2 linked regions of the Homo sapiens genome follow. The protein of the gene in region 2 interacts with the protein of the main gene of each other region in a pairwise test. Each region holds a gene or a part of one and is shown on either strand. Other genes may lie near its edges.

Region 1 (7,000 bases), on a different chromosome or scaffold from region 2:
GTCACTCCCTTGGGGCTGGGGTAGTGGGACATCCCAGAAAGGCCCAGCCCCACAGACTCTGACGGGCACCTCCAGGACACCCACTGGCCAGCGCTTGCCCCCTTCCTGGGGACAGTGCCGTAGCGTGGGCCTGGGCCGGCTGCTTCTTCAGCAGCAGGGTCCTGCACGCCGAGCTCGCGCTAAGAGGGAAGTAGAGCCCACCCTGCCCTGTGGAGCTGCCAGCGCCTCTGCTAGGCCTGCCCCACGCAGGTGGATGGCCCAGGTCAGGGTGGGCGGGCCAGGTGCCTTCGGCTCTGGGGCCGACCTGGACGCTCCATGCCACTGTCTGTCACAGGAAGATCATGGACTCCGGGGAACTGGACTTCTACCAGCATGACAAGGTCTGCTCCAACACCTGCCGCAGCACAAAGATTGACCTCTCAGGAGCCCGTGTGTCCCTGAGCAGCCCCACGTCGGCCGAGTACATTCCCCTCACGCCCGCCGCAGCCGACGGTAGGTGCACAGGGCTGCTCGTCCTGACCCAGCCCCACCCTGGCCATGGCCACAGAGGGTGACATGCCCCTGGGTGGCCTCCTTGGCCCCAGGCGTTTGCTCACGCCAGGACTGCCGGTCTCCTGCCTGGGACCCTGAGTTGTCTGGGATCAGCCTCCTCCTGCCTCACAGAGGAGATCTGGCAGAATTGCTGCTTTCATTGACAAGGAAGATTGAAGCACTTTTCTTTTTAAGCCATTTTGGTTGTAATATAATAACTCACGTGTGGGGAAGGGTATAGCGAGTAACAGAGAGTGCCTGGGCGCCCACCCGGCCCCCTCCCTCCCACCCCCACGGCCCAGCCCCAAATCTGGACCCGCTTCCCTCCTGACCTGGCGGTTTACGGAACTGCGCGCCTGTGCTCCCGCCTTCCGTGCTGGGTGCCTTGCTGCAGGTATTCCTGCCACTTGGGTTTTTGGGTGACGCTTTAGATACTGTTCCACGTTGGTGTCTGTAGCTCTAAACTGTGGAGAGGTTGTTCCCTAGAATTCTTTCCAGCTTTATGAATAGAGAAATTTTTCTTAAAACTACAGTTAGGCTGGGTGTGGTGGCTCACACCTGTAACCCCAGCACTTTGGGAAGCCGAGGCGGGTGGATCACTTGAGGCCAGCCTGGCCAACAGGATGAAACCCTGTCTCTATTAAAAGTACAGAAGTTAGCCGGGTGTGGTGGTGCATGCCTGTAGTCCCAGCTACTCAGGAGGCTGAGGCAGGAGAATCGCTTGAACCCAGGAGGCGGAGGTTGCAGTGAGCTGAGATCGCTCCACTGCCCTCCAGCCTGGGCGACAGTGTGAGATTCCATCTCAAAACAAAAAAACTGAAGTTAAAGTGAAGTTAGGTCCTGGGCTCCCTGGTCACATCTCTGGGTGGTCTTTGGTGATGTGTTTCCAGCAATGCCACATGCATTGTCCCTAAGCTGCCACTCCGCATTGCTGGCCAGATTGTGTTCCTGTGTGCCCAGGGACGTCCTTGTTGTTGGCCCAGGTGGGACCCAGTTGAGTCCTGTCCTGTCCCGCTGGGTAGGAGAGTGAGGCCAGGGCACTAGGGAGGCCTCACCCTTCTCCTGGGCCCCCTTCCACGTCCTGCTGGGGCAGCCTGGCAGGTTCAGTGCTGAGTCCTGAGAAGCCCAGGACACTTGGGCTGCTGTGGTCAGAGGGGCTGGGTAGAGCCCAGCCTCCTGTCTGTCCTCCCCAGGGCCTCCCCAGCGGCTCCACCGCGTTAGTGTTGGCCCTGCCTGACCGCCTGCCAGGGAAGGAACTGGGCCTTCCACGCCCTGTAGTCAGTGCCTCACAGCTAGGCTGAGGCTCAGCTCTTCTGAAGATGATTTGGGTTCTTTAACCTGCAATCTCTGAGAACCATTGACTTGGCTACTGTGCAGTTAGTAAAAGATGCTGTGCCAGCCCCAACTCGGAAAAACGACTCATTCACGCCCCAAATAATTCCAGATGTGTAATATGAGTCATACTCACCACTGCCATGTCTTTGATGAATGTGGAAAAGGCCAGTATTCCCAAAACATTCAACTGCTTCCAGGTCGTTGGTGGTGGTGTTGGAGAAGGAGTCCTGCTCTGTCGCCCAGGCTGGAGTGCAGGGGCCTGATCTCGGCTCACTGCAACCTCTGCCTTCCGGGTTCTAGCGATTCTCCTGCCTCAGCCTCCCGAGTAGCTGGGATTACAGGCGCACGCCGCCACACCCGGTTGACTTTGTATTTTAGTAGAGACGGGGTTTTGCCGTGTTGCCCAGGCTGTTCTCGAACTCCTGACCTTAGGTGATCCACCCGCCTCAGTCTCCCAAAGTGCCTGGATTACAGGCGTGAGCCACCACATCCGGCCCCGGGTTTGTTTTTTAAGCCAGATCTGTGTATAAAGTCTCTATCAGCAACGCCCAAAATGGCCACATATGAACGACACGCCCAGTTGTGTTCTGCAGGCGCGAGAGAGGGACCCACAGGAAGAGCCAGGACGGTTTCTGTCTCTCAAAGCCCCACTTGTTCTGGTGTAGAAAAATGGAAACATGATAGATACTGAGATTTATGATGACTTCAATGAAGCATCACTTGAAGAGGCGAGGTGAGGGCGAGCCCCACGGGCGACAGACGCAGCCGCAGAGCTCTCGGTGGGAAAACAAGTCAAGCAGAAGGATCACCTTGTCTCGCTCCTGACGGTCCAGTCGAAAGTGCTTGTTGAGTACAATCGTAAATGGACAAGAGGAGGAAAGTGTTGAGGATTTGCTGAAATTGGGTGACGGGTTCAAGGGATTTGTTTCTGCGTTGTTTCTCCTTTGTATGTTTGACAACGTCTGTGATTAAAAATAGCCATAAAATATAAGGCAGGTACACTTTGGCTGTACTAGTGCGTATCCTGTGTTTGTCAGTTTTGTGAAGACAGATGGAAAGGTTCAGAAGGTGGTGTGAGGAGGGTGGACAGGGTATGTGGGGTGTGGGACTGTGGTCCAAACAGCACTCACCCGAGGTTCCCTTTCGGCTGCAGTGAATGGGTCTCCTGCGACCATCACCATAGAGACCTGTGAAGACCCTGGCGACTGGACCGCGGCCATTGGAGGTACGAGGTTCCTCCTTGTGGGCTTCTCACAAGCCCTGGCGGGGTGGTGGAGTCTCTGCCCACCTCGGGCCACACAGGGGCTCCAGGAGTCCAGGTGGGGCCGGCAGGGTCTTTGTGGAGAAAGGCCTGGTTCCAGCAGCATTGTCGTGGGCGCTCTGAGGCTGACCTGCTAGATTTTGGCACTGTGGATGTGTCTGGGCAGTGCAAGCCCAGCACAGTGCCAGGCGCTGCCGGCTCTGGCATGGTGTCCTCGTGGCTATGGTGATGTCCTTGTGGCTGTGGTGGCTGCCCCGTGTAGCAGCACTTTCCCTGCCCACTGAACCCACTCCTTCCCTCACAGATGACACATTTACCTTCTGGCGGGGGCTGAAGGACGCCGGCCTGCTGGACGAGGTCATCCAGGAGTTCCACCAGGAGCTGGTGGAGACCATGAGAGGCCTGCAGCAGCGGGTCCAGGACCCTCCCCTGCAGCTTCGAGGTGAGAAGCTGCATCTTCCCTCTTGCTGGCTACTCAGCCCAGGAGTCTCTGCAGGAGGTGAGGCCACTGGCCCTCCTGCCCCTAGGCCCTTCTGTGCTGCTGGGTTGGAGGCTGAATCTAGGCTTGGGACTCCTGCTGTGCTGAGGCTGAACTTGGTGGGAGGATCGCCTTGATGTATCTCAGTCTTCTCCCTCTGAACTGAGCTCCTGGCTGGCTGGGTTCCTGAGGAGCAGCCTCAGTGGTGGTGTTCTCACTCTCTAGGAAGAGCCCAGGCTCTCACCGAGCGTCCACGTGACTCTCTAGGAAGGTCCCGGGCTCTCACCGAGCGTCCGCGTGGCTCTCTAGGAAGGGCTTGGGCTCTCACTGAGTGTCCGCGTTACCCTTTAAGATGCTGTACTTCTCAACAACATCGTGCAGAACTTCGGCATGCTGGACCTGGTGAAGAAGGTGCTGGCCAGCCACAAGTGCCAGATGGACCGCTCGCGGGAGCAGTACGCCCGGGACCTGGCAGGTATGCTGAGACCACCCCCGTCCCGTCCCCTGGGCGGTAGGCTGAGGACCTGGAGCCCACGGGCTCACCCCACGGCTGTGCATCCACCTGCACTTCCTGGAGTCACCGCCACCACGGCGAGCTTCTCCGCACTGCTGTTGTGCGAGGAAAACAACCTGAAGCTTAAGTGAGGTAGTCAGACCTCTCCATTGCACTAAGCTTACATTTACCGGCATTTCTGTGATGAACCAAGTAGTTATTTAAGAGAAAATGACAGAGGCCAGGCGCGGTGGCTCACGCCTGTTATCCCAGCGCTTTGGGAGGCCGAGGCGGGCGGATCACTTCAGGCTAGGAGTTTGAGACCAGCCTGGCCAACGTGGTGAAACCCCATCTCTGCTGAAAAAAACAAAACAAAACTGGGCATGGTGGTGTGTGCCTGTAATCCCAGCTACTCGGGAGGCTGGCAGGCAATTGCTTGAGCCCAGGAGGTGGAAGTTGCAGGGAGCTGAGATCACACCACTGCACTCCAGTCTGGGTGACAGAGCGAGACCCTGTCTCAAAAAAAAACAATGACAGAGAATGGGAAGGGCTGGTCCTGACCCCGCTCAGAGCTCAAGCCCCTGATATTGGTGCGTTTCCTCCATGCTCCTCTTGGGGTCTGTGCTTACTGTGTGTTCACTGTGTGTGTGTTCAGTGTGTGTGTGTTCACTGCGTGTTCACTGTGTGTTCAATGTGTGTGTATTCAGTGTGTGTGTTCACTGTGTTCAGTGTGTGTGTATTCAGTGTGTGTGCACTGTGTGTTCACTCTTCACTTTGTGTGTTCACTGTTTGTGTTCATTGTGTGTGTGCACTCTGCATGTGTGTGTGCATGTTTATGTTTAAACACATGTGCCACATGTGCTGCTTTTCCTCCTCTCTCTCTTAATATGTCACAAGAGCAACTTTCCACGCTGGGTGTGTGAAAGCTCATGCGGGGATCTGAGACGGCATTTCCACGCTTGCACGCAGGCCCTGGGTCAGTGCAGGAGGGTCTGAGACGGGATTGCCACGCTTGCACACAGGCCCCGGGTCAGTGCAGACCCTGGGTCAGCACAGGCTGGTGTCTACCCCGAGGGCCATCTTGGGCCCCGTCTCCCACAGACCTCACCTTTGGCGGCCATGTGGTCATCTGGGTTTGTGGCATCAGGTGAGCAGACCTGGGTTGCCACTGACCCAGGGGCCACCCAGATGGTGTGGCGTGTCTGCCCCCATCCCCTGCATGCCGCCATCCATGCCCCCGTCCCCTGTGTGATGCCATCTGTACCTCCCTGCAGCCCTGGAGCAGCAGTGTGATGAGCATCGTCGCCGAGCCAAGGAGCTGAAGCACAAGTCCCAGCACCTCAGCAACGTGCTCATGACGCTGACGCCGGTCTCCCTGCCACCGCCTGTGAAGCGGCCCCGGCTTGCACGTGCCACATCAGGACCGGCCGCCATGGCCTCGCAGGTGCTCACCCAGTCTGCCCAGCTGGCGCTTGGCCCGGGCGTGCCCGTCCCCCAGCTGACCAGCGTGCCCCTTGGTAAAGTGGTGTCCACCCTGCCGTCCACCGTCCTGGGCAAGGGTTCCCTTCAGGCGCCCCCCGCCAGCTCCCCGGCCTCCCCGCTGCTCGGGGGATACACAGTCTTGGCCTCTTCCGGCTCCACCTACCCCAGCACAGTGGAGATCCACCCGGACGCGTCCAGCCTCACGGTCCTGAGCACGGCCGCCGTGCAGGACGGTAGCACGGTGTTCAAGGTGGTCAGCCCGCTACAGCTGCTCACGTTGCCTGGCCTGGGCCCCACCCTGCAGAACGTGGCCCAGGCCTCGCCTGGCTCCAGCACAATTGTGACAGTGCCCGCAGGGGCTGCCCCCGGGCCTGAGGAGCACACGGCCACCATTGAGGTGGCTGCCATGGCAGAGGACCACGAGCGGAAGTAGCCGACAGGAGGGCGAGGCCCCTGGGACGGACAGGGCTGGCTGTCTCTCAGCCGCGGCAGCAGGGAGCGGGCAGAGGCCGCAGGGCTGGCTCGGGCAGGTGGGTCACGTGGTCTGCAGAACCAAAGAGAGGAATCGCCAAAACAAATCACGAGAAGAGAGAAGGGGACAGAACAGCGAGAGCAACCTGGAAAATCGGTCTTCAGGTCCCACGTTTCCTCCCCCTTTTTTCTTGGGAAATATATTTTTCCATCTGTTGCTTATTAATACTGTTTACACATTGGGCCTTGATCAGGAGCCAGGTGGGCGGGGGCTAGGGGGAGCCTGGGTGCAGCAGAGACAGAGGAAGCAGAGCCAGGTGCCGAGCGCGACCCTGCAGGTGCTGGACGCGGTGCAGCAGGTCACGAGGCCCCCATGTCTGCACCCAGCCAGGTCCCTGGGGACGTTACTAACTCATGACTTGGGAGCTAAGCCCAAGTGTGAAACCTCTGGATCCTATGGATTTGGTTTCTTCCCACAGTTTTCTGTAGGTTTAGTGTGGCTGGCGCCCCGTTCTCCTCCAGTTGGGAACATGCACCCGGAGCTTGGGGTGCAGATCCTGATGGGTGCCTGCCTCCCCCGCCCCCAGCCGGTGCTCAGGTGGCCCAGGGGCCGCACAGACGAGGCGTGGTCCAGGCATTGTTGCACATGTACTGAGGGTGTTTTTAAGTGAATTGCTTAGTAGGCTTCTAGGAAGAGTCAGATTTATAGCATTTTCAACCAAAATAATGGTGAGTGCCTAGGCTTCCCGAGTTAGCTCTTTGGGTGGCCCCTGAGCCCCTGTGAGTGCACTTGACCGGGTGCGGAGGTCCTGGGCAGCCTGTCCCTGAGCCGGCCCCTCCCAGGGGTCTGAGATCCATGAGGTGTGTCCCTAGGGCTTCAGTCCTGGGGCAGAGGCATAAACAGAACCAGTCACTATGGAGGTCGAGGATTCCCATGTGGGCCCTTCAG
Region 2 (7,146 bases):
TTGAAGGAAGAGTTATTAGCATGGAAGTCAAAGAGAATAACAACTGAGGGAAGGCTTTTAGTTAGGCAAAGAATAATTAACTGGTAATTTTTAAGACAGCAATTTAAGTGGAAAGGAAGAAACAAAACAGAAGGAAGGAAAATATAACACAATGGAAGCTGAGCCTGAAGACAATTTGCCTGACTGCATTGTAAGATCAGATGAAGGCATTTTTAGCATGTACTTTTTTAAGCACAGAAAAAGAAAAAGTGGTAGAGGGAGACAGTTAAAAATATAGAAAAAGAAATGATCATATTTAGGGTACAAGAATGTATGCAAGCATTCTTTATAGAGGCCATCTCATTTTCTTGTCTTCTATAATACACAGAAGGCTGAAACAAACAGGCTTATTCATTCATTCAGTATTTAGTTGGCACTGTTATTTGCTGTTAGGGATTATAGACATTAGTGATGCAATAGTGAATAAAATTTACAGAATTTCTGTCCTCATGGAGTTTACTATCTAGTGGACAATACAGATAATAACAAGGTAACTTATAATGACAGAATACGATAAGGGCTTTGAAAGAAATCTAAAGATGCTATGACAATAAAAAAAAATAGGAGAATCTAATTTAATTCAGAGAAGACATCTTTCAAGCAATGTCACTCTTTTTTTTTTTTCTCAGAGGCAGGGTCTTGTTTTGTTGACCAGGCTGGATGGAGTGCAATGGAGTGATCGCAGGTCATTACAGCCTCAAACTCCTGGGCTCAAGCGATCCTCCTACCTCAGCCTCCCAAGTAGCTGGGACTACAGATGTGTGCCACCTTGCCTGGATAATTTTTAAGTTTTTTGTAAAGATGGGTTCTTGCTAGGTTGCCCAGGCAGGTCTCAAACTCCTGGCCTCAAGCAATCCTCCCAAAGTGCTGGGATTACAAGCATGAACTACTGCGTCCAGTTTCACTCTTGCTCAGATCAGAAGATGAAGGGTCAGCAAGCAATGACTGGGAGAGGTCTTCCTGAATGGGGAAACAGTCTGGGCAGTGGCCCTGAGGTAAGAAAGCTCTTGAGACAAATTTGATAAACTAAAGAAATGGAGCACAGTGAGGGAGGTGGGAAGATAGGCATGAGAAGGTTGAATTTTTTTTTCAAAGTACATAGGGAAACCACTGAAAGATTTTAAGTGGTGGAACTAATGACCCAATTTAAGTTATATACATATATATTTTATATTTTAAAGATCATTCTGGCTGCTGTGTAAAGACAGAATTAAGGGGAGAAGGAAGAAGCAGGCTACAGTCGTAGTCTAGGCTTCATCTGAGGTAGTGGCAGAGAAGACAGAAAGACATGGATGAACTTCTAGATATACTTTAGAGCCAAAATGGCTAGGACTTAGTGATTAATGTGGTTTAGGAGAGAAATAGAGAAAATGAGGATGATTTCTAGGTTTCTGGCCCAAACAAGTGTGTAGATGGGCCATTTGCAGAGACGGGTGGATAAGAACATTTGTTGTGGTGTTTTTTTTTTTTTTTTTGGTATGTTAAGGTTTAGGTTTGTCTTTTAGGTTTGAGATATTTATCAGGCACCAAGTGGAAATGTTAAATAGGCAGGTGGATATACACAAACCTGTAGTTAAGATAAAAGGTCTGAGATTAACTATATACTTTTGGGAATCATTACTTTAGATCATGTGGAAATGGAGGACACTAAGAATACAGAGAAACCTAAGAGCAAGCACGAGGAACTCCAATATTTAGGGGTCAGATAGAAGTGGAAGAGCTAGCAAAGACACTGAAAATGAAAGGCCAAATGAGGGAAGAAGAAAACAAGGAGGGTGTGGCAGGACAGAAGTCAAGACAAGGGTTCACGTCAATTGTGTTAAATGATGCCTAGAGTAATGATTGACTCTATAGTTTCCAGTTTAGCATAGAGAAGAACAGCCGCAATAGGTATTTAGTGAAAGAGAGGTGTGGAATGAAAACAATGTATGCAGATAATTTTTGAGAAGTCTGGCTGTAAGGGGGAACAAAGAAATGATGGAGCAGGTGGAAGAAGGAGGGCAGTTTAGGAGGGTAAGATTCTAAATCATGTCCATATGTTGACAGAAATGACCTAGCAGAGAGAAACCATACCAGATGATTCTGTTATTCTAAATAAAATATTAGATGAGGTCGTCAATAGCTGGGGAAATGTGAAATGTGAGTTCCCTACATTTACAAAATAATGTAAACCATGAAAGCCAAGGTTTATGATTTGGCAGGAAGGTTACAAAAAGCAGTGATAAAAGACAGGAAATCAGGTCGAGCCTCAAGGGAAATCCAATCTAAAAGAATTACTATAAATTTAACTAACTATTGCAAGGTTAGAAGGAAAGTGCTAGCAAATTGCAAACACTTGACTGAAAAATGTATTTAATTCACATATAATCCCCTCATCCCTGCTAAATATCTACTTTAAAATCTTATAAATTATATACAAGTTCAATTAAAATATGTTTAAATTGCCTACCCAGCCACTGTTAGGCACTGAAGTTCAGCTGCAATTCTTATAGGATGACTTGTTGGAATCAAGTGTTTTAGAGCAATTTTCTCTTCAGGTCCTACTTGTAACTGTGCTGTGGCCAAATAAACAGAGCTGAAAGTGCCTGTAAAACAATTTATTAAATTTTTCAATATCTGGTTTTTAAAAATGTTAATGAAACAATTCTAAGATAGATTGTAAAAACTGTTTCAATGGCATAATACATTAAAACAGGACTTCATTTTACAGTAAATATTTATTATTTATTCTTTCTTTAAGGTTGAAAAAGAAAAGCTGTTACCATAATTAGTAATAAAACTATGGTCTTAATAGTCTAAAAAGTGGTATATTTTTCAATAAGAAATAGTAATGAAAACCAAGACTAAAAAAGGAAAATAGAATGGAAAAAAGACCTCGTAAAAATAGTAAAAGCATATCCCCAGATTACCTTCTCCAATTTTGTCCTCAATCTTAAACACATTACTAAGCTGTGGTACAGCTTCATAAAGCTTCTCAATATCTTTTTTAACACCTTTCAAGGAAACAAAAATTTAGAGTTTTAATCAATGACAGTATATTTTACAGTTTCTTAAAATTTAAAAAGCTCAATGAAATAAATTATAAAATATGAGTAATTAATTATACATAAGTTTTAATAACATTGTGATAAGATTAAAACCCATCAAGTTGCTATAACTCACACACACCTCTTGAACAGACAAAAATGACAGTCCCAGAATTAAATACACCAAATTTCTACTATACTGGAATTATATACTAAGAGATACATTGTTACTGTAGAGATTACAACATGAAAAAGCACCAAATTTTTAAAATAACTAAACAATTTGTGCTGTGATCACTAGATGGCATGACAAGGACACATTGCGATGTTCTTGAAAACTATTTCCCGTAAAGATACAAAATCTTAAAGGCTTGGTAAAATTTTATGTATTAAATATTCACACTATATTTTCAGAGAGAAGGCCTACTAAAGCTCTCAAGCATGTAAAAAAGTATTTTTAAAAATTTGTCCCAATTGCCAGTAGTATCCTCTATCCTTGACTGCAGATAAATTGCTACTTTTAAATAAGTATCAGTTCTTTATAAAAATGTACATAGTTAAAACAAGGGGAGGCAATAATACAAAACCCAGTAAACTACTGGATACAGAAGAGAACTAGATAAGTCTTCAGATTTTATTACAGTATCTAGGCTCTACTAGCCCTATATAGCATAAGTTTAAGACATTTTCAAAGCACCGGCACATGCAGTATCTTTTGAGGTCTTCCTAACAGTACTGTGAACTTGGCAGAGCAGGAATGATTATCCTGATTTTTCAGATAAGGAAACTCAATTCAGGGAGGTTAAATCATTTGCCCAATTTCACAGAGGTGTTGCTGATTATATATATTTTCTAATTTTCTTTCTTTTTTGAGATGGAGTCTCACTCTGTTGCCCAGGTTGGAGTGCAGTGATGTAATCTCCACTCACTGCAACCTCTGCCTCCTGCGTTCAAGAGATTCTCATGCCTCAGCCTCATGGGCAGCTGGAATTACAGGCACGCAACACCACGCCCAGCTAATTTTTGTGTTTTTAGTAGAGACGGGGTTTCACCACAATGGCCAGGCTGGTCTTGAACTCCTGACCTCAAGTGATCTGCCCACCTTGGCCTCCCAAAGTGCTGGGATTACAGGTGTGAGCCGCCGCACCTGGCTAGAACTAATTCATTTAAATAAACGCTGTCTTAAAAAATGCTCAGCAATGGGTATGTAAAAAAAACCAATAAATTTGATGCAGCCACTAAGAGCTTGGTCTAGTAAAGGAAACATGTTATCATTCTTAATACAAGGTGACACCTGTAATAAAAGAATGTATATACTACTAGGTTGGGGAGGATTTCTGAAGGTGATAGGAAGCCTTCAGTTGACAGCTAAGTTTTGTTCTGAAGCATTCACCAAGTAGTGAAAGTGGAAGAAAACATTTTAGGAAAAATTAACTACGTCTGTAAAGACAGGAACAAGAAAAAAAAAAGGCTTGGATGATTAGGGTAGGGGGAGGGCTGAGAGACAATGAAATACAATGTGGCCTGGGGCGGTGGCTCAGGCCTGTAATCCCAGCACTTTAGGAGACCAAGGCAAGAAGACTGCTTGAGGCCAGGTGTTTGAGACCCTATCTCTTAAAAAAGCTAAAAAACAAACAAACAAACAAAAATTAGCTGGGCTTTGTAACACGGGCCTGTAGTCTCAGCTACAGAGACTGAGGCAGAAGGATACCTTGAGCCCAGGAGTTTGAGGTTACTAAACTATGATCGTGCCACTGTACTCCAGCCTGGGTGATGGAAGAGGGAGACCCTGTCTCAATAATAATAACAATAATAACAATAATAGAAATAGAATGTGGCTGAGGAAGACAAGAGAGAATGCACATGAAAGCTATAGGAAGTTTTTAAGCAGAAAAATGACAAGTGGAGAACAGATGTGAAAGGGAGGAGAAACATTAAGGGTACTTCCACACCACTACTCACTTATTATGCATCTACTCCTCTTTACAAAAATCAAAATGTTTATTAAGGTTTCCTGTCACTTCAGAACAACTTCAACAATTTTAAACAACAGTAAAACTTCCTGGCAACCAAAGTGAATGCAATATCCTCAAATTCTGAAGTGGGAAATGACAGCAGAAAGCAGAAAAGTGCATTCATGTCAAAAGCTGGAAAACAGTACTAAAGACAGACAAATGAAACAGACTTTGAGGACTGGAGGAGGATCCCGAAAATCTATAATATGCTAAAAATTATTTAAATGCCTCTATTTTATACATGAAGGTCTAGGCTTCTATTTTGACATTTTAAGTCACTTTTGTTTTCTGCTGCATAATATATCCAAGTTGGTTTTAATATACCAATAGTCTCCTTAACTACACTCCTTGCCAGCCTGGAGTCTATCTGTAACATAGTAGCCAGTCGGCTTGCAACATAGCAAACAGAGTTTAAACAGAGTATTCTGATAAAGCTAAGTCACCTTGTCACTATTGTGCTCAAAACCTCTAATGGTTTCACATCTCACTCCATTAGAAAGCCTCTTTACATCTCTCTTTGACTTCATTCCAATTACCTTCCCCATTCTAGCCACAATGACCTCCTTGCTATTCTTGAATGCTAGGCACACTCCCATCTCAGGGTCTTTGTACTTGCCGTTTCAGGGTCTTTGTACTTGCCGTTTCCTCTGTTTGGAATGCTCTTCCCCAAATATCTGCACAGGTCACTCCTTCACCACCTTGAAGTCTTAGCTCAAATGTTACAGAAGGCTATGAGCAACCATACTCACTAAAATTACAATCTCCTTCCCCAATACTTCCTATCTCCCCTTCCCTTTTACATTTTCTTAGTAACATTAATCACTTTTGAGCACAGTATTTACTTCTTTTGTTTACTCTCTGTCTATTGTCTAACTACCACAGTGTTAATTTCTGTTTTATGGTTTGATTTATCCCTAGCACCTAAAAAAGTACATGTATATAACAGACAATAAATATTCATCACATAAATGAAACGTTTTCAATATCTTGTCATGGATTAAAACTGACACTCTAGGCATATAGTCATGGTTATTCTGGGGCTTCATGTACTCTCTGGTTTATACCTCCTGGAACTAGGGGATAATACATAATATAAGCCCAAACTGGGACACTCTTGAGTGAAAAGGCAGCAGGAATAATAATTACATTGTGACAATAGCCGTAAGCTAGATCTGTCCCAGGCAAACAAAGATGGTACCCATAGCCCATTTTAGAAGCATGGCTAAGGGTGTCATTGTAGCAAACAGAATGAAGCAAGCCTTCCTTCCAGTAGAGTTCACCAGTATGGAGGAGACTTTCAATATAGAGTTTATACATCATTCTTTCACTGAACAGATCTTTCTCACTTATTAAAACTTGGCATATAGTAGATACTTAAAAAAAAATAAAAGCTTACTGGCCAGGCATGGTGGCTCACACCTGTAATCCCAGTGCATTGGGAGGCCAAGATAGGAGGGGATCACTTGAGGCCAGGAGTTTGAGACCAGCCTGGGCAACATAGCAAGATCCTGTTTCTAAAAAAAATATTTAAAATTAGCTGAGTGTAGCGGCACATGCCTGTAATCCAAGCTACTCAGGAGGCTGAGGGGGTAGGATTGCTTGAGTGCAGGAGTTAAGGCTGCAGTGAGCTGTAATTGCACCACTGCACTCCAGTGACAGTGGTGTGACAGAGAGACCATGTCTCAAAAAAAAAAAAAAAAGCTTGCCAAAACAGTGAAAGAATAAACATTTGACCAATATTATGCCAGATAGTTTGTGCATTACAGCATTTTTCTTAATAGGAAAAAATAGAAACAATCTATAGGGTCAATAGTAAAAGGTGATTGAATATATTATAATATAATATGCAATGGACCTTAAATCCAGTTGTAGAATATTTACTACATGAGCAATATTCAAGATATATATTAAAAAAAATGGAGATCAGAAATAAGATCCCATATTCTGGTTCTCTTTTCAAAAACAAAAACAAAACAAGATCCCAATTTAGTTTCTAAAAAATGTACCTATGTATGCCTAGAAAGGCTAAAGGAATATAACAAAATGTCAACAGTGGCAATATTTCA

What was found. Proteins that work in one complex are often made in the same cells at the same time.
Region 1: the proteins of CDC7 (region 2) and GMEB2 interact in binary tests that used the Homo sapiens proteins (3 or more experiments, as listed by UniProt).

What each region holds. Positions count from the first base shown.
Region 1 is NC_000020.11:63,589,102-63,596,101, reverse strand, and holds part of GMEB2 (glucocorticoid modulatory element-binding protein 2), read left to right. Parts: intron 1-334; coding exon 335-492; intron 493-3,019; coding exon 3,020-3,091; intron 3,092-3,431; coding exon 3,432-3,569; intron 3,570-3,957; coding exon 3,958-4,080; intron 4,081-5,372; coding exon 5,373-6,013; 3' UTR 6,014-7,000. UniProt on the Homo sapiens protein: Trans-acting factor that binds to glucocorticoid modulatory elements (GME) present in the TAT (tyrosine aminotransferase) promoter and increases sensitivity to low concentrations of glucocorticoids. Also binds to the transferrin receptor promoter.
Region 2 is NC_000001.11:91,503,740-91,510,885, reverse strand, and holds part of CDC7 (cell division cycle 7-related protein kinase), read right to left. Parts: intron 3,033-7,146; coding exon 2,949-3,032; intron 2,625-2,948; coding exon 2,489-2,624; intron 1-2,488. UniProt on the Homo sapiens protein: Kinase involved in initiation of DNA replication. Phosphorylates critical substrates that regulate the G1/S phase transition and initiation of DNA replication, such as MCM proteins and CLASPIN.